3 separate regions of the Homo sapiens genome follow, and all the other regions are linked to region 1. Evidence: fine-mapped expression QTL. A gene starts in region 1. Each other region holds a variant in brackets. All regions are shown on one strand. Distances are from middle to middle.

Region 1 (6,999 bases):
CGGATAGGAGCTTAATAAATGATGCCTATGAATGAAAAATCAGGAAGGAGCAATGTAGACATTTTGTTAAATGTGTAAAGGAATATAACAAAAGATTCAGCTAAATGAGTCCAAGTGATGTCTCCAGGGAGGGGAAAAAGGAATAGAGGAAACAGGAAATGTTGATTTAGTAGCAAGTCTTATGAAACTTAAGCTTGATTCTTAAGCTATGTTCATATAGAGGTTGATCAAAATACTGAAATCAAAGTAATGACAACAAAAACTGTTACAATCCCATCTCCCCTTATCATGTCTTTTTTGGTCTCCAGGCATGACACTTCTATATTTTCATATTTAGGGAAGCCTTATCTGAAGTTCCGATATTGGCACCTAACTGCCCTGCTTTGGTTTGTAGCCAGTTGTACAAGCTTCTAGTCAGATGCCTGCGTACTCATAAATTCTTAGACTAACTATTGTCTGATTTTAGAAGCTTCAAGATATTTGGTATTTCAGTTAAATACAGAATAAAGCGTGAAGCTTCCAATATAATGTAAAAAATGATAATAGTAAAAATAATAATAGCTAACATTTACTGAACACTTACCATGTGCAAGGCATATAATAAGAACCTACCAATAAATCAGGGTGCCAATGTACTGTCGTTCCACAGAAGAGGTCATAGATAGGCCAGGAAAATAAAGCTGTTCTTTCATCTCTAGAGGGCATCATTCCAGATTAGAATCTGCAGAATTTAGTAAGGAGGTGGCAGTGTTTTTCTCTAGTGTGACTAGGAGGTAAATATAAGCTGCTTGCTGGTTCACTCACCCCTGTGTAACCATGGTAGGAATATAACCAGCTCTCCTGTGAGTCTCTTACTTCTGATGGCTTTGCAAATTATTAGGGCAACCTGCAGCAGGCCAGTTTAGCAGGGGCTTTGGGGCTTTCTTTTAGGAGGAATTTATCCCAAGAGATCTAAGCCAGGGTAATTTCATGTGAACTCACTCTTGCCCCACCCCCCACCCTAACTTTTTAGATGCACACTTCATTATGAATGGAGTTTGAGGTTCTGCTCATCTGTAGCACTTCTATTTACTATCATAGTGGTTTCAAAAGTAATGTATAAAGAGTGTCTTAGTCCATTTGGTCTGCTATAACAGAAATAATATAAGCTGGATGGCTTATAAACAGAAATTTACTTCTCATAGTTCTAGAGGCTGGATGTCTAAGATCAGGGTGCTGGCATGGTTGGGTTCTAGTGAGGACTTTCTTTCAGGTTGTGGCTGGCCATCATCCCCCTGTAACTTCACATGGCAGAGAGAGTGCCAGGCAGCTCTCTGGGGCCTCTTTCATAAGTGTACTAATCCCATTCGTGAGGGCTCCACCCTTATGACCCAATCACTTTCCACACATCGGGGGGTAGGACTTCAACATATAAATTTTGGGGGGACACATTCAGCTCAGATAGTAATGATTTTTCAGTCTAATAATCCCTAAGGATATTGAGATGTGTATACATAGGAACCCTCATTCTCTGTTAGTGAAACATAAAATAGTGTAAGGATTTTGACTGGCAACTTGACAATATCTATCAATTTTCAAAATGTGCATATATCTTCTGCCTCAGTATTTCTATTTCTAGAAATTTACCTTACAGATACATTTCATATAAGTATACAAAGGTAATGTACAGGGATGCTTACTGTGTGTTTTGTTTCGCATTGTTTTGCTTTATTTTGTAATAGCAAAAACCTCGAAACAACCTAGATGTCCATTAATAATGATTAAACTATTATACTCTATCCAATCAATAGAATTATTTGTGGAAATTAGAGTAGGATATGTTTATGTGATGTTTCATAAAAATGTCTATTGCATATTAAGTATATCGATTTATGTCAATATCTATATTGAAAATATCTGAAACTTAAAAATGACTAAGAAGGTCAATGCTCATTTTTTACTTTATATAATTTTGTACTCTATGTTTTTAAAGTATGGGCCTGTATTATTTTTTAATTCAACAACACATTTTAAAGCATGTAATGACTAGTAAGTCACAATTCTAGTTTGCAGCTACCAAGTGAGTGATCTCATATTACATAAATATCCTTTGGTCATAAGACCTGTGAGAACATACAAGATGAACAGGTATAATCAGTTAAGATGATAAAATTCTGTTAGATTTTATTTACTACCATGTGAATCATGGAGGGGGAAAAGGTACATGTATTTGAAATATGAGATTACTTTCTCAAACTCCTGGCCTCAGACAATCTGCCCGCCTCGGCCTCCCAAAGTGTTGGGATTACAGGCGTGAGCCACCACGCCCAGCGAGATTACTTTCTAATGTTTAACTTAAAAAAGAAAAAATATTACAATATGTTTAATCTCAAATCCATATCAAGATATAGGTGACTCACAGGGTTTTGCCTGAATACAGGAGCAACCCAGAGAAAGAGCAGTTCTCTGTCACATAAGAGCCTGTGATTTCTGTCGCTGTGTGTAAGGACAGACAGACAGACAGATAGAATTAGATTTTAAATTAGAAAAAATACTTCAGGAGCAAAGAAAGTGCAAGAAAGACATCAGGCAAGTTTTAAGAAAATGGTTAGATAATTTTTATGAAGGAAATGTCTTACGTTCGGATTTGCCAAATAGGGCATTATTTTCTCCTGATAAGTTACTGATTTCCATGTTATCTGCTCTTGCTGTTCAGAAATTGAGCCTGTTTGTGTCCGCATTCACACGTTGCTTCTGGGAGCCAGGAGTCATCTGAGTTAATAGAAAAATCACTAACTCGGTTACATATGAGAGAGGTTCTGTATTCCTAGCAGCTTGCCTTATCTAAGGAGGGAGAAGGTGCTAAATAGGATTTTGGTATACCCTCTTGGTTTAGTAACAGAAAAATGATGGGGTCTAATCTTTCTAATTACACCCTGTGGATATCTTATTTAGTGCCATTGTCAAATATTTTCACCTTTAACTTCACTCATCACATTTTTAAAAATTGCTTTTGTCAACTTGATGTTTACTGGGTCTTATTCCTCAGTTTCTTTCACACTAGCACCAGTAACTTACCTGTAGCTCACCTGGTGAACCTTACCAGAGTGAGTACATTTACCACCATGACTGGACAAATGACATGAAGAAAGCAGTCACGGAAGGGTTAAAGCCTCTCAAAGTCATGCTTATTTTCTACTAAATTCTTTTGCATGAATATGACATTGAATGGGGCCTCAGTAAATGGGAAATTCAACCTAAAATTGAACTGCACAGGCTGGAAGTTAGGTAAAATTTGATTCCATTTGAATTGTTCTAAGCAAGCAATTTGTTACCCTTTATCCTTTAGTGGAATTGATGAACAGGTGGTTTTCAGAAGATCACTTGGTAAATTTAGCTTCTGAAATTTGAGCAACTCAAGATCTGATTGGTTGCTCTTGCCACATGATAATTCGGAGCCCAGGCATCACGCTGGCTTTTGCCTGGGGTTCTCAGGAGGGGAGAGTTGGGAGAGGCTTTGCTGCTGAGGAAATTTATTTGGTAGATTGAAGGTAAGGCCAGTTTATGACTTTTTCTGTAATACTCTTTCAGGAGATGCTCCACAACTTCCCTCGAAGTATTTTTCAAAGGTTTGGGCCATAACTGAGGAAATTAGTGGTAGAAATATGGCTAGGAGAGTTTAACCCCATTGCCCTACTAAGGCCCTACTAATATCTGCTATGTACCGTGTGTGATTAGAGTCAAGTCCTTTGCTAACCAATTTATTGCTTGACTGAATTGGCTCTCTTGTCTAACATTTTTTTGCCTTTGATATTTTTCTCTAAATATATTAGTGTGAAAAAGAAGATACGCTGCTCTACGTTCCTATATTTATCCTGTTCTACTGGGCTTCATTTGCCTGAGGAGTGGCAGTTTCGCTAGCTTAACAAAACCAGCCACTGCAGGGTATTGGTTTACATGGCAAACATCTTTGGATGAAGGGACAGCTGTTCCAACTCATCATCCACTTCATATCAAGAGTCTTACTCTCTGGCGTCAAACTGTAGAGGCCTTGAGAGATCCTTTCGCTGTTTTCTGCATTAGAAGCTTAGGCTAAGGACTGACAATCCTATATGTACCTCAATCAATGCTTTACAACTTTGTTATTTTTCAGGTTTGAACGAGAGCTACAGAAACGAAAGAAAAAGTCTGTATAAGCCAATGGTGTTCGGGAAGAAAATAACCCCATTGCCTTGAGGTTTCTTTTTTTCTTTTAAAATTTATTGACAGATGTATTTTTATGGGTTCCAATTTGAAGCCTAAGATATATTGCAAACAGTGGATCAGGGCAGTATGGAAAACTAAGTCAGCCCTCTTAGAATTTTGGTGCTGGGGGATAAATTTCAGCTTCTTCTGAAACCCAAGCTGACCTTTCACTAAAATTTTTGCTGGAAAATGTCTTTTCTCTAAGTGTTTGGAAGTTTAAATTCTCTGTTCCCTGAGTCCAAACTCTCTCACTTCCTTACCTCAATTTCGTTTTACAATTTTAACTAAACTGATTATGTAGAAGTAGCAATTCCCAACACTGAAGGAATAAAGAGAAAGAAATTTGAAGCTTCTGCTGTTTATACTTGTATTTTAAATGTCTTCTCTCCTTTAGCCTGCAACAATATATGAATTTGTACAATAGTTTAGCTTCAAATTCTATTTTTATAATGTCATAAGATAATTTCTGTGCTGGGAATAGACTCTAATATGTTTTCATTTGTATGGAATATGAAAAGTTTGTAGGTGCCACTACTACTCTGGAAAAATGGCAGATGACGAAGACTATGAGGAGGTGGTGGAGGTAAGATTTAAAAAAAAAACACTGACAGCAAACTATTTTATGTAGTGACAATCAAAGCTGTGTAGGTGAATTAATCATTCGAAAAATACATTGTCTATTATAACTTCACAAAGAGTCATCATTTAAAGCATAAGAAAGGAATATTTTATGTTCAGTTTCACTATAATTATGTGGGATTTAGAATTGACAGGAAATATCACTGTTTCCCACTTTTGCTTTTCTTTAAGCTCTCAAAAAACCAAGTTGGAGTAAAGGCAGGTTTTAATTCGTCTTCTAAAACTGCTTTCTTCCCCACTTCCCAACCCCGATGTTCAAAGGGACAGAGACGAAGAGAAAGTTCTGAAAATGGAACTCTGTCTCTTAGTATCTGTATAGCAATAGAAGAAAAGATCTACTCCTTATTCTTTGCTTCAACTAGCTAATCATCTATAGGGTAACATGGGTTAGATATTCAGAATAATCATATGTATGAAATTATATGCAGATGTGAGACTTTATACATAATACATACACATGTGCACAGACACACACATACAAGCAAATATAAATAAAGGCATGAAGGTCACAGCGATTGTTGGAGCCACACCTTCCTACCAACTTCATTATATTTACCCAAGTCAACAAGACTAGCTTTTGCTTTTGAATTTTGAATAAGAACAAAGACTATAGTGGGTATCTTGAAAATTTTCCTTCCAATTATTAGTGGACATCTAACACATTTTACAAAGCTGTTAATCATTTATTTTATATTTATTTTACATCCTTTTGTTTTTATCATCTTACGGTTTTTCCTCACCGGCTCTTGCCTTTAGCTTCACATTCTAGAAATAAAATCTAAAGGCTTGGAACTATAATGCACATAAATACAGTGCCATGAATCTGAATGTGCTTAATAATTACCAATTAATGATGATGATCTAAACACATGAAAATCTCCAAATGCCTAAGGCACTTGGAGGCAGTTTTGAAAATCTGTGCTTTTTAATAAGACTGAAATTAACTGTAAGAGCTACCCAGAACCAAATTTTAGGTGGCAGTGCCAAAATTTCTCTTTGGAAAATTATTTTAGTGACCAGTCTATATTTAGATGAAGAAAATTTTATTTATTCTACAAATAAAATAGCTTTTATTACTGAAGGATATGAGGGAAAAAATAGAATGAATCTCGTACAATGTAACACTCAGCCTCTCTGGCTTAAATGCTGATACCACATCTTTCATGCTGATATTATCACTAGTGTGCATTTTACTTATGTACCTAAGGGTCAGAAATATCACTGTCAAACACTAATACAATTATAAATTAAATTGTCTTCCCTATGATAATAATGCCAGTAACAGTTTTTACTCTCCAACTTAAATATCCCTTGTCTTTCTTAAAATAATTGTGTACCTTTGCCACTGGAAATTGTCCTTAGTGCTAGACTTGATTGATTCAACTAGATGTCATAAAAAAGGAGGTGGCTATTTTTAGACATCCCATCCCTACCATTTTGTTCCCATTACAGCATCTGTGTCTGACCAGCAGGTGATAAACGAATAGACTGCCTGCCAGAAAGTATTGAACTGAGATCTCTTTGACCTCAAAAAAGATCATGAGCATAAGAGGGTGGTGCATTCGAAAAAATGGCCAGGGAAGATTTTAGAAAACAGAGAGGAACTAGCTTTAAAAATATGCAGAAAACAGAGAAGAACTGGCTTTAAAAATATATCTCCTTGGGATCTTGGACATCTGAAATAAAGTTTTACTGTTCTCTCTACTCTAACTTAAACTTGAAAAGAAAGAGAGAGAAGCAAGGATGCACTATCTAATTAGTGGCACAGCTCTAAAAAAAGAGTGAGATTTGGCATACAAGTTAATGCCAACCATTTAAATAATGTTGCCTCTTTTATAAGCGTATTTCTAAGATGGATTTACCAATGGTGAGAGCCCAGCAAAGGTAAAATTGAATGGTTTCCAAGGAGCTGCTTTTAAACTTGGATGCTGAGAAAATCCAAAATAGTTGTGAATCTTCCATTTTATTTTAATATTTCTTCTGAAGCCACTGATGTTTTGTGTGACTGGAGGAATGACTCTATGTGGCGTCAGCATCAAACAATATTTTCTAGTGTCCAAATGATATTTCTCATGTGCTGAAAAGTCACAACTGTAAAAAAGCAAATCTCTGTCCTGTCAGTGCTTGTGATTTTTG
Region 2 (6,999 bases), 55 kb before region 1:
TAGCCTTTATTGTGCAGTTTACTTGTTAACCGGCTTATAATGTATTCAGCCTATGCTAATCATTGACTCCTTTTGGGAAGGGTAGAAGGTAAAAGATGTATACAATCTCTCAGCTGACCTTTTTTTAATGTTGGGGAAGAATAATGAACAACTTTTATTATCTACCATAGACGGCCAGTCTTCTGCTTCTAGGATGCTCTCCCACCAATGTGTCCATCTATGCTGTCAGCCCTAAATGCCAGTCCTGTGTAGGAAGTCCTGTGTTCATTCAGAAAAGTCACCCAGTGTCCATCCATTTATGTCCATCATATTAAAAACAGTTGAGTTATATGATAAAACATGCTACCATTAAATATTTTAACAGATTTAAATAATATGAGGAAATTATTAATGGTTGTGACATGTTAAACAGGATAAACAATTTTTTTATAATATAAACTTTTACATCTATCATCTGAATTATGCGAGAACAAAAAACATAGAAAAAAGATAGGAAAGTACCTTGGGAAGCTGAGGCCGGAGGACTGCTTGAGCCCAGGAACTCAAGATCAGCCTGGGCAACATGGCGAAACCCTGTCTCTACAAAATGTTTTTTAAATCTAGCCAGACATGGTGACAGGTACCTTATAGTCCCAGCTGCTCAGGAGGCTAAGGTGAGAGCATCACTTGAGCCCAGGAGTTCAAGGCTGCGGCGAGCTGTGTTTGCACTCCAGCCTAGGTGTCAGAGTGAGACTATGTCTTTAAAAAAAAAAAAAAGAAGAAAGAAATGTATTATAACATTAGGAGTTGTAGGCGGCAACATTACAACCAGTATTTTTCTGATTACGATTTTGTATGTTACAGATATTCTATATTGAGCGCATTATACCAATAATCAGAAAACATTGCTGAATCATTTTGTCTTTAAAGAATCATCTAATAGGGATGGGAAGGAATACAAAAGTTGTATTAAGTAAATGGGATGAAGCTCTCAGTTCAGAGATCAAGATGATTGGTAAGTGGAATACTATGCAGCCATAAAAAGGAACAAAATAATATCCTTTGCAATGTGGCTGGAGGTTGTTATCCTAAGCGAATTAACATAGAAACAGAAAACCAAATACCACATGTTCTGACTTATAAGTGGGAGCTAAACATTGGGTACTCATGAACATAAAGATGGCAGCAATATTGGGGACTATTAGAGGGGTAAGGGAAAGGGGGCCAAAGGTTGAAAAGCTTTATTGTACTATGCTCAGTGCCTCGGTGATGGGATCATTTATGCCCCATACCTCAGCTTCATGCAATACACTCAGGTAACAACCTGCACATAAATCCCCTGAAATTAAAATAAAAGTTGAAATTAAAAAACAACAACAACAACAACAACAAAAGGTGATTGGTAAAAATTCACTGATGCAATGCCATTTGCAACCTTCAGTGCAAGTCTGATTTTGACAGAGTTCTTACCAATTATTGCAGATGTAAAGAGATTACCTTTTTAGCTTATGCCTTGATATTATGTGTTTTGCTTTAGATGGTTTGGTGGTTGGTTGGTTTGTGGGATAGGTTCTTTTTGGCTGTGTAGTAATGACATCAAATGCCCGCAGAGAATTAGTTGTAAATGGTAATGGTCTTTTTAAATGGTTTAACTGCTGTACTCAAAATACTCTTCAACCTGATCTGGTGTCCTAAAAGTTTAGTACTTCTAATAAGATCTAACATGTGGTTGCATTTGTTATAAATGCCAAAGTTATATTTAAAAACACCCAAAGGGGCTGGGTGTGGTGGCTCACACCTGTAATGTCAGCACTTTGGGAGGCCCAGGCAGGAGGAGAACCTGAGCCCAAGAGTTTGAGACCAGCCTGGGCAACATAGTGAGACCCGCATCTCTACAAAAAACAAACAAAAAAAATAGGCATGGTGGCATGTGCCTGTTGTCTCAGCTACTTGGGAGGCTGAGGTGGGAAGATCACTTGATCTTGGGAGGTTGAGGCTACAGTGAGCCATGATTGCAACATGCAACACTGCATTCCAGCCCAGGGGACCATGAGACTATCTCAAACAAACAAACAAACAGACAAACAAAAACCCACTCCAAATGTAAAGTGAATAGTTCACATCAGGTGTACTGGAGGCTATATGAAGAGAGACAGTGATAGCAAGAGTCAACAGTCCTTATAGACTAAAGTGAGGTGGCAGTAGTAGTAGGCATTGGGGAACCACTGAAGGTTTGCTTGTTTTATTTTGTTTTAAGACAGGATCTTGCTGTGTTTCCCAGGCTGGAGTGCAGTAGCATGATCATGGCTCTTTGCATCCTTGACCTTCTGGGCTCAAGTGATCATCACACCTCAGCCTCCCAAGTAGCTGGGACTACAGGCACATACCACCACGCCTGGCTAATTTTTTTTTTTTTTTCTTAGAGATGTGGTCTTGCTATGTTGCCCAAGATGGTCTCAAACTCTTAGACTCAAATGATCCTCTCACCTGGGCCTCCGAAAGTGCTGGGATTACAGGCATGAGTCACTGCACCTGGCCTGGGAATAACAGTTTAAGGCCAGCCTCTTAAAATGAAAGTTATTGTGGCAACTTCTAAAAGATGGGTTGAAAAGAGAGGAAACTGGGGATAACATCATAAATAGATTATTATATTATCCCTGGTGAAAGAAAATGAAGGCCTGAAACAAGGCAGAGAAGGCAAAGATAAACTTGATATCTAATGGAATATGGGTAAGTAACCATATAAGTTATCAGCCAAAATGGGACATGCTTAAGAGTCAAAGAAGGCACTATTAATAATTACTCCAGCATATCAAAATACCACATTATACCCCATAAATACATACAATTTGTCAACTAAAAATAATTTTTTTTTTAATTCATGAAAAAGGGGGATAAGAAGAAGAAAAACATTCCTGCAGGACTGGTCTGGGCAGAAGAGGAGTTGTGGTAACTAGATATGAGGAGAAAGAGAGGAAGGAGGCACAGAGCAGTTGGAGCTTGCTGCCTGGAAGAATGACGGTATG[A/T]TAAAGAGATGGGATGATGTGAAATAATTCACATTGTTAATTATGAAGTGTGTTTTGAATCACCTCAGTGTTACCCAGAAACGACACTCGGTTATCATGTTCAGATAGGGGACAATGTGTTTTTGCAGTGATAGCAGTGGAGGGGAAGGGTTGTCAGCTTAAGGGGCAGTTGGTCATTCTGTCATCAAATGAATTAGTAGCAAGACTTGACCAGCATTTGTGAATAATGAAGCTTTTCTTGCTGACAAACTGCTGATGTTTACATTGGGCCATTATAATAGGCAATTTAATGTCATTAATGACCTTTATATAAAAAATAACTCGTGAATGAATGAATGTAGTGAACATTAAGTACTGCTAATAGAAAAAAAAAGGGCAAGGCTTCTTTGCCAACTTGGCAGAATGATCATCAGTATTTCTGCCTGTTCTTTGCCTCAGGTACACACATATTTATTTATTTATTTATTTATTTATTTATTTATTTATTTATTTATTTTAGTTTTAGAGACAAGGTCTGACTGTGTTGCCCAGGCTGGACTTCAACTCCTCAGTACAAGTGATCCTCCTGCCTGAGCCTCCTGAATAGCTGGGACTACAGGCCTGCACCACCATACCCTGCTCTAGTTACACAAATCTTAAAATGATGCTGTTATGTTAATTCAATTAAGAAAGTAAACTAGTTCTATGATCCAAGCACATAGTTGTGACTCAATTCATGTTGTTGTTTTTAATCCTGAAATGATATTGTAAAATAAGAGCTTTGCCTTAAAGTTTTTGTTACTCAGTTTTTACATTTGAGGTAAGAAGGCAAGTGGCAGGGAAGAATGATTAGCAATAAAGCTTTTTAAAAGTTCTTCAGAAACAGTAGACAATTGGTTGAGTCAAATTGACCTATAATGACTATTCCCAGGAATTTCCTAGTTCTTATTCCTTTGGAAGGAATTGTAACTACCTTATGCCATGTAAAGAATGCTGCTATTTTACGTTTATTACAAAGATGTGCCTACAGATAAGAATCAAACTGGAGAACTTTAAAAATGTTTTAACTTTACCTGATCTTTTTCTTAGAAAGCTAACTGTAAGTAGGATATGGTGCCAAGAAAAATCATCAGCCTGATACTGTGAAAAAAAGACACCCTATTAATATGCCCACAACATTATCAGCAAGCTAAGTAACATCCCTGGACCTTAGTTTCATTATATTTTTAACTAAGTATGTATCAGAGCCCTTAACACAAGCCCAATATATTTTGGAACCTCAATAAATAGTGGTTTTGCTGATTGTCTTTTTAACAATTTCTAAAATATTGAATACTGGTTATTATAATTAAATGTATTCTAAACATCTATTCTTTCTGTCTCATGCCTTGATCTAGCCTGTTCCTTCCACCTAGAATGCCTTTTCCTTCCTTTTCTCACATAGCAATCTTTGACATATCCTTGAAGACTGAGCTCTCCCATCAGCCTGGGAGGCCTGGCCTGATCTGGAAGACGGTTCAGCACGTCTTTCTCTGTTGCCATAGTGCGGGATTTTTGTCTATTTTCAGCAGGTCGTTCCAGACTGCAAGCCTCTGGAGGGCAGTGACTCGATCCCATTCAGCTCCATATCCCCACTACCAGCATGGCATGCATTGGGGGTGTCCATACATATACAGAACAGAAACTTTCAGGGTTTGGCCAATTTTACTTTTCCTTAGCATGTATTATCATAAAGTGATGTAAGTACTATATGCCTGGATTTGTCTTATTACTACATCTATTTGTTAGTAAAAGGAGGTTACATGTTGCCTTAGTGGTTTCTTTGCACTTAAATATTTTTTAAATTATTTGGTTCTTGGCTGGGAACTTAGTCCAATATGTCTGCTAAAGTATTTCCCATTTCTTGCCACCTCTACAATAGTGCCATAATTTCCAAGTTGATTTGACATGTATCATCTTTATTCTCACAATCCTGAGAGGTATATAGAGCAAGAATTAAGTTCTACATTTAACAAAAGAGAAAACACACAGAGATTGATTGGCTCTAGGTTATATAGCTAACTGGTAACAAACCAATTTTTATTAAAATTAATTTTAAAAATTTAACTTTTAAAGTTTATCTTAAATGATGAACATCGCTTGTGTTTTTCTTGCATGTAGTTTCTATTTTAGGAGAATTTGCCTAGGGGTAGTTCTGAAACCAAGTAAAAGTAATTGGATTATGAAGGTCTTCTACCTTAAACTAGCTGTCAACTTTAAACTCAACCATTTAATAATTAAATTTAAACTTTACATTTGTTTAATTTAGTAATGTTTCTTCACATTAATCAATTTTTCAAATTAGGAAAGTAATAAATGACAAAAATGGAAGAACATTTATTAAAGATAGAAAAAATGTTTAATGGTCTTGTACATATAAATGGTGTTAATGTTTTGGCTTCATTTTAATAAAGCTTTTATTAAATAGTGTCAGAGAGAGTGGTGGTTATTTTGTAAAGAAAATGTAAAATCTTTTTTCAAATTATAAAATTACTTGCTTATTTTCATACTTGGTGAGAGCCAAATTAAAATTATTTATAGTTTAATGGGCTACTTTTCTAATATTTGCTAGATAAGAACTTCACTTGAATAAAATATGTCACATAAATTTATACAACATTTTTCACAGTGAATGTGGTTCTCAAAAATTTTATTTCTAAGTTGGAACAGAAAAAGATAAGAAATATAAATATGTATAATGAATATAAATTGATTTCTTAATACTTTCTACTCTGACTGAATATCAAAATTAATTAATATGCTCTTTGAATCCTAGAAAAAAAGCTAATAGTTTAAGTATTAGTAATGTACTAAAATTAAAATGACCTTAAAAAGGGATTCAGGTATTTCATGCTAAATTTTCCTTTGATTTTAAGTTACCAACTGATAGAGTACAAAAGTGATAACTTTCTGAATATTGTTGCTGTAAACAAGCATATATTCAGTTCCTCCTGTGTGAAAAGAAGCCAAATGTAATGATTGTGGTCTTATTCAGCGACAAAGTGCTGATGATATTATTTCCATAGACAGTACAATTCTGCAGCTGGCTCTGTCAGTCTAGGAAGAGAGCTCACTAAATAAAGACCATGAAGTAATTTGCAATTCAGGGGCAGCATTTTAAAGGAAATGAGCTGAAAGTCTACTCATTAAAGTCAAAGGAAACCTTGTGCTTTTTTTTCTTTTCAATATATTTGTTTCTTCAAAGTGTAGCTATACCAGCTTGCATAGCCCATATTGGGAATTCAGAAAAAGGTGACACTGTTAAAAATTTTACTTTACTTTTTGGAGAAGTTCCTTGGAGATAGATCTTTTGGGGTAAAAAAATTATTTGGGTGTCTGGAATTTAAACCTACGTTGCTCGTTTCATTTCAGACATATAAGAAATGAGTTTCAGAGGCATTTGTTAGTTGTCTGTTTCCTCGCAGTGTAAGACTGTCAAGCATATAAATGCAGGAGCCCCAGTGGCCTGAAAGCAGTCAAGAGTTCCTACCCTCCTTGGCTCAATGGAAACGCAAGTGAACTATACAGCGTTCAATGGACCAATCAACAGGGCAAAAATCAGTAAGTGCATGTCCAGTTTTCTGAGGACAATATTTTAGCTACAAATGATTCTTTTGATGCTGTATGTATCTCCTCACCCCATCCCCCTTAGGGAGTCCAAAATTGTGTCATTTGGCTTCTTATGTATAATAGCAAAATTTTATTTATAGCAAAATAAAAGTCAGTAGACATTTGAGTAGCTACTCTGACTTAGAAACTGCTAGCAGTCAGGGATGTAGAGAATGAAACCATGTATGTTGCCAGTTGCTTAATCTGGTGGGACAGATTTATGAACAAATAGCTTATGTGGTGTTAGAAATATATCACAGGTAAGTATTTCTGCTTCTAGTAATCAAATTCCTGACATACATACTTTTGAAATAGCCTAAAGGCCTGTAAGAAATAGGTCAGTGCCAGGGCATCTCCACTTTTTATT
Region 3 (6,999 bases), 89 kb before region 1:
CTAGTGCTGCCAGAAAAAGAGTTATCACCACTTTCTATTTTGAGTCAATGATAAAATTATTTGTTTCTGTAAGTTAAGAATAAATGAGAACTTTGCCAACAGCTCCTTGGAGTAGTAAATAATAAGGGTGTGTGCTCTGGTATCACTACAAATTGCTAATAGTAGTGTTTTTATAACCTGTATTTTGTGGTAATTTTTGACGGGACATTTATGGCAGTTTGGCGGAAATTAATAGAGAAATTAATGAAGTTAAGTTCTAGAAAATTAGATATGAATATTGTGAAAGTGTGAATAAATTATTTATTTTCTGCTAAACAGTGTGGCTGTCTTATCAATAGGGTCACTTTTCCGAATATCCACCATTTAATCTAATGCCAGATATTTGTTGGGTTTTGTTTTTGTTTTTGTTTTTTTGAGATGGAGTCTTGCTCTGTCACCAGGCTGGAGTGCAGTGGTGTGATCTTGGCCCACTGCAACCTGTGCCTCCTGGGTTCAAGCGATTCTCCTGCCTCAGCCTCCCGAGTGGCTGGACTACAGGTGCGTGCCACCACACCCAGCTAATTTTTGTATTTTTTGTAGAGATGGGGTTTCACCACGTTGGCCAGAATGGTCACCATCTCTTGACTTCGTGATCCACCCGCCTTGGGCTCCCAAAGTGCTGGGATTACAGGCCTGAGCCATGGTGCCCAGCAGGGTTGTTTTTTTTTTTTTCTGTATAGGACATATATAAGTTAGATATGTGTTGGATGCTCTTGTTTTACCTTCAGTGGATTCAGAATGCAATCTTACTTTCTTTTCATAGAAACTCTTGGAAAGTATGTTTCGGGAGATTACAGAATTTGCCATCTGATGAAACTTAAACTATGCAGTATCTCCTGTTTCTGAAACCCCTCGAGAACAGCTTTTTCAGTTAAAGCTCAGATTGAGTGCACAGTGAAAGCTATTTGTATACCGCTCGAACTAGAAAAACCAGAGGTCACATTTAGTTGATACTGAGATTCAGTAGAGTACAAACTTTATCCTAGATGCTGTCATTTAAATCATTTTATTTTATTTTATTTTATGTTTTAACAATCTTTTGAAGTAGTTATTTCCCCTGAAAAGGGAAAACTGAGGCTTAAGTGGAATGATTTTTTTTCCCCAGGCCATGCAACTGGTATATGCCAGAGCCAGGCAAGTTAAAACCCTGAAGGAATCTCTTAAAGAAGAGATTGACATCATTTTTCCCTCCCTCCTCCTCCCCCCATTAACTTTTTCAGTTGCTAATCTCTAAGTTGTCTTTAGAACTTCGAAAAGTTGCCATTAGTAACTTTTTTTTATAGAAGAGCTTGTGATCAGTGGTTTACTTGTTCTCAATAAACAAATATTTTAACACCTATTTAGTCCAGGAAGTGTTCTACATGGTGGGATAAGGGAACAAAACAGACAAATTCCACTGCCTTTATGGAGCTTTCATGTAGTGTTGGGAGACAGGAAATTAACTCACTTTGTCTCTACAAGTAAAATAATAGTGGTTAACACTTGTGCAAGGTTCACACAGGTTGTTTGATTTAATATTCACTTAGTTGATTTACTCTTTACAACAACCCTACAAGGTAGATATTATTCCCCTTATTTTACAGGGGTACGGAAACAGGTAACTTGCTTTAAGCACTATAGGTAAAAGTGATAGACCTGGATTTTAACCACGATTACGTAGTGCCGGAGTTATTTCTCCTACGCACACACACCTGGATTTTAACAAGATTATCTAGTGCCAGAGTTAGTTCTACACACACATGCACGCACGCACATTTGCACACAACTTCGTGTAAGAAGGACTTTGTATAAGAAGGACTCAGATAAAAAGAACTGACTGATGTGAACTATAAAAGAAGTTGTGGAATTTCCTCATTAATAGCCTTGTATTGCTCTCTTGGTTGGTTGCTAGAAAAGGAATTATAAGTATGAATGGGTGCAGGAGAAGCTGCCTGTGCTTCAGGAACCTGATGCTGAGGAAGCCACCTCTGTTTCTGGCTTATTATTGTTGTTATTATTATTATTATTATTATTATTAGGGAGTTTAAATGTGTAGAGAAGAGTACATATGGAAGCTGAGTAGCCAAGGGGTAGACTGTGTCTTAGCTTCTAATACAGATGCTCCTCAATTTGTGATAGTTGATAATTTGTGATAGATAGATAATTGAAAATACAGTAAGTAAAAAATGAGTTTAATATGCCAGACTTACTGAAAACCATGGCTTTAGCCTAGCTTGCTTTATACGTGCTCAGAACATTTATGTTAGTTTACAGGTTGGCAAAATCTAACCCAAAGCCTATTTTATAATAAAGGTTGAATATCTCGTGTAATTTATTGAATACTGTACTGAAAGTGAAAAACAGAATCTTTGCATGGGTACTCGAAGTATGGTTTCTACTGAATGTGTGTTGCTTTTACAACATCACAAGTCAGAGACCATTTGTAAACCCTTTTTGCATGCTCTGTGGAAGTGGAGCTAGGTCCTTTAAACGTTTTTCTTTTGCCACTGGGCAAAATGTTAAGTTTTGTCAGTAGGCTGCACTGGAGAGGCATTGTAGGAGGAAAGGGTGTTTGTACTTAGTTATAGTGTGCTTTCTTGACGGGCTCTGCTTGTAGCATGAACACCGTCTCCAAGGCCTGGCTCTTGTACTGCATAGTGGTCAGCAGCAGCCAACAGCTTCCCCTAGTACCCGTCTTAGTTGGTTTCATAATGGAAGGTCTCCAGTGAAATACCTCTCAATAAACAGTTTTCCTCAGCACCGAAGAGGGAGGATTTTTGGGCAGGTTCCACTGGCACCTCACCACAGCTACTTCTCTGCCATTCAGTGAGCCACTATCTGTGCCCTCCAACGAGATCTGCATCTTAAGTCTGGAGGGAGGGGGAGGACCTTTATCTCAACCCTAGGGATAGTGAGTGCTTCTTAAATTTGACATTCCCATAATCTTTTAGCCAATCTCTCATTACTCCAGTCCCCTGTAATATTTTTTTGATGTTGAACTTTCCAAGTTCAAATTATTGTGTGATTTCTGCCTCCTGATTGGATCTCTAATTTTGCCATGTGTAATCATTGCTTTTTTTTTTCAGCAACCTCATAGTGCAAAAGAAAATTTGGTTATTCCCCTGAAACTTAATTTACCATTACTGTAATAGCAAGTTTATTTTCAAACTTTCTTTTTATTGTTAAGACTTTTAAGTTTTAAAAATTGAACTTTTAATACAAAACGACTTAAGCAGATATCTCTCTCCTAACCTTTATATTTTCCAGATCTGATTTATTTATTCATGAAAAATATTAAGCTCATGCTTTATTCCAGGAGCTGTCCTATGGACTAAGAGAACTATAGTGAATATGACAAATGGAATTTTTTGCTCTGAGAGACATAGAATTAATAGGGCTTAGTGATAGTTCAGATATGAGGTAAAAATGATGAATCAAGAGGACTCTCCATTTATTTGCCCTGGTGTTTTTGTGTTTTCTGATGTTGTATGATTCACAGAGATAGTAATTCTCTACAATAACAATTATTATTATGCTTAATTTATTGACTGATGAGTTGGGGGAATATATATTAACTTTTAAAAACTGGCAATGAATGGAACTGGTAGACTGCCTGTGTCAAAAGGAAATGAAGGAAAAGGGAAACAAGAAGCAATTTTCATGACAAAACAGTAAAGTATTGATTGGTATGTTAAAGCCTAATTGGTAACTCACAGTTCCATCAAAGCATTAGAACAGTGCAGTTGTTGTGGCTTATTTGAGTAAATACAGGAATGCTGTGACATAGTCTAAA[AG/G]AAAAATCATACTAAGCAGTAAACTTCTGATGATTCTTGTGCATCAAAGAGTTGGAATGGCTGAAAGTTTTATTGCATTTGTCCACAATAACATTCTTGTAGTAGGCATATTGGGATTCTATGAAGTCTTTATTTCGAAGTGCATTATAGCACTTTTTGGCTACAAATTTACATTTTGTATAGATGCTTTTCCATCTTGCTAATGAAAGGAACAGGCTGTGGTGGTGAGAGTAAGGATGTTCAGAGGAAATTGATCTACTATTAAAAACTTTGTGACTAATCTGACCCTATTATTGAGATGACACGTTTGTCTTTGAGCCCATTGCACAGTTTGGTCTTAATTTTATAGTTCTCATTGTGACCCACATGCTATGTCTTAGATTTAGGAAGCTATTAAAAATGGTCATTGGTGGCCGGGACGCAGTGGCTCATGCCTGTAATCCCAGCACTTTGGGAGGCCAAGGCAGATGGATCACCTGAGGTCAGGAGTTCAAGACCAGCTTGGCCAACATGGCAAAACCCCTATCTCTACTAAAAATACAAAAATTAGGCCAGGCACAGTAAACTTCTGATGATTCACGTGCAGGTGGTTCACACCTGTAATCCCAGCACTTTGGCAGGCCGAGGCAGGTGGATCATGAGGTCAGGAGTTCAAGACCAGCCTGGCCAATATGGTGAAATCCTGTCTCTACTAAAAATACAAAAATTAGCTGGGCGTGGTGGTGCGCACCTGTAGTTCCAGCTACTCGGGAGGCTGAGGCAGGAGAATCCCTTGAACCTGGGAGGCAGAGGTTGCAGTGAGCCGAGATCATGCCATTGCACTCCAGCCTGGGCGACAGGGCGAGACTCCATCTCTAAATAAATAAATATAAATAAATTAAAAAATTAGCTGGGCATACGGCGAGACTCCGTCTCAAAAAAAAAAAAAAAAAAGAAAAAAAAAAAAAGAAAGCCGGGCATGGTAGTGCCTGCCTGTAGTCCCAGCTGCTTGAGAGGCTGAGGCAGGAGGAGAATCGTTTGAACCTGGGAGGTAGAGGTTTCATTGAGCCAAGCTCACACCACTGCACTCTAGCCTGGGCAACAGCGAGACTGCGTCTCAAAAAAGTCATTGGTGCTTTATTGTGAAAATACAAAAAAACTCAAATAGAGCTACGTCTTGGGAGGAAGCAACTAGAACTTTGTAATGAATGTAGTTTGTAGGTGTTTGGGTGGAGTAAGGAGGTAAAGATCCTCTGGATCATGGATTCTTCATTGGAATGGCCCTCCAGAGATCTCAGACCACATGACTACATGTGGTTTTTTTGGATATTTTCCAGGTTCTGCTTATGTTTGATTGGAGTTTCTTTCCTCCTTTTTGTTTTTGAAGTATTTTAACCATTTGGTAAGAATATGATATGTTCAAATATATTAGTTTGGTTTCCCTTGATTGACTTTAGAAATCTGCTTAGGTCTTAAGAGTTTGGGGGCATGGTTGCATATTTATGCATTTGTAAGTATATAGGAATTCATTGAATTTGTAAAATAGGTAGGCAGAAGAGTAAGATTGTAGTGTGGAGAATGGCATGAGCAAAGTTAAATGATTGGAAAGTTTATGACATGTTCTAGAGACTGAGTAGAGCAGCTTTTCTAAGTTTTAGTACGTAGGTCAAGAAGAGTTAGGGGAAGATTTGGGCTAAGGCTTAGCTAGCTTTGTCACACTCATCCTTTTTCATCATGTTTATCTAATGATCTTACCTGGATTTAGTTATTCACTTTCAGGTGCAGACAGAAGGTTATGGGTCCTCCAAAGCTTCAGACCTTGGCTAATTTCTCTCCTCTTGTTCATAGCCATTTTACCTTTCATCTTTCCTTCTACCCTAACAATAACCTAACCTTTCACCTGCTAGGACTTCCGGACATTCTTAACCTTGTAGGGCAGGACTGGATTTCTTTCCCGGCCCAAATTCCATGGCTAGCCACTTCATTTCTTTCTTATCACTGTCTCCGACACGCTTTTCTCTATTAACATTTTCCACCATGCCAGACATATGGATTCTGTTTTTTTTTTTTTTTTTTTTTTTTTGGAGACAGGATCTCACTCTGTCGCCCAGGCTGGAGTGCAGTGACACAATCTTGGCTCACTGCAACCTCTGACTCCCAGGTTCAACTGATTCTCATGCCTCAGCCTCCCAAGTAGCTGGGACCACAAGTGTGTGCCACCACACCCAGCTAATTTTTGAATTTTTAGTAGAGACGGGGTTTCGCCATGTTGGCCAAGCTGGTTTTGGACTCCTGACCTCAAGTGATCCACCCGCCTCAGCCCCCCAAAGTGCTGGGATTACAGGCGTGAGCCACTGTGCCTGGCCCAGACATGTGGATTCCTACCCTGTATCATCTACTATACCTTCTCTCTCCAGTGTGCCTTCTTTATTTCTAGGCACTGTTAAAGAAAGATTTAAAGCAGTTTAAATCCTAATCCACCACAGGATAGGTTATCTAATTTCAGCTTATTGATACTCTAGTTCATTCCATACAGTGGTTGTAAAAGATGATGCATCTTGAAACTGTTAACCTTTTCCTTTCCTCAGTAGGCAACTAAGTTGTGTTATAAGATGAAATCCTGGAATGAGTAATTTCTGCCATCTGCTTTATCTTAGACTTGTCTGTGTGTTATAGCACATGGTTTTGTTCACAGCAGTTTTACCTTGGTGATCATGTTCAGCTAGTGGCCAGGTATGATAAAGAATTTTACCTCTGCCTCCCAGGTTCAAGCAATTCGTCTACCTTAGCCTCCCAAGTAGCTGGGACTATAGGCTCACGCCACCATGCCAGGCTAATTTTTTTGTATTTTTAGTAGAGATGGGGTTTCACCATCTTGGCCAGGCTGGTCTTGAACTCCTGACTTTGTGATCCACCTGCCTCGGCCTCCCAAAGTGCTGGGATTACAGGTGTGAGCCACCATGCCTGGCCTAAGAGTCTTTTTTTTTTTTTCAGTAGTTTTTGCCTAGCTAGTTTTTCCTAACAGAACTGTTAGAAAAGCACCAGGTTTGGAATTAGGACATAGTAACCAAGTCCTAAGGACATGGCTGAAGTAAGGAGACCACTTAAAAAAATACCTGTACTAAAGCCAGATGAGGTTTTACTTTAAAGCTATCATTTTAGGAGGCTATATAGTTTTTCCACTGGTATGTCCTACTATTATTCAATC

Evidence for each region.
Region 2: its variant is fine-mapped to the expression of NEB in whole blood (TOPMed, PIP above 0.99). The same link has a PIP of 0.9 or more in tibial nerve.
Region 3: its variant is fine-mapped to the expression of NEB in whole blood (TOPMed, PIP 0.96).

The regions. Positions count from the first base shown.
Region 1 is chr2:151,730,929-151,737,927 of GRCh38, reverse strand. It overlaps NEB (nebulin), which reads left to right and starts at 3,452. Exons shown (of 182, transcript NM_001164508.2): 1 at 3,452-3,530; 2 at 4,133-4,216; 3 at 4,743-4,807. The coding sequence starts at 4,772.
Region 2 is chr2:151,785,753-151,792,751 of GRCh38, reverse strand. No RefSeq gene overlaps it. Among named protein-coding and RNA genes, the nearest start is that of ARL5A, 39 kb to the left of the region's middle. The variant A/T (reference allele first, on the strand shown) is at 3,006.
Region 3 is chr2:151,819,536-151,826,534 of GRCh38, reverse strand. All of the region lies in intron 1 of ARL5A (ARF like GTPase 5A), which reads left to right. Among named protein-coding and RNA genes, the nearest start is that of ARL5A, 5.4 kb to the left of the region's middle. RefSeq lists an enhancer at 2,653-2,712. The variant AG/G (reference allele first, on the strand shown) is at 3,812.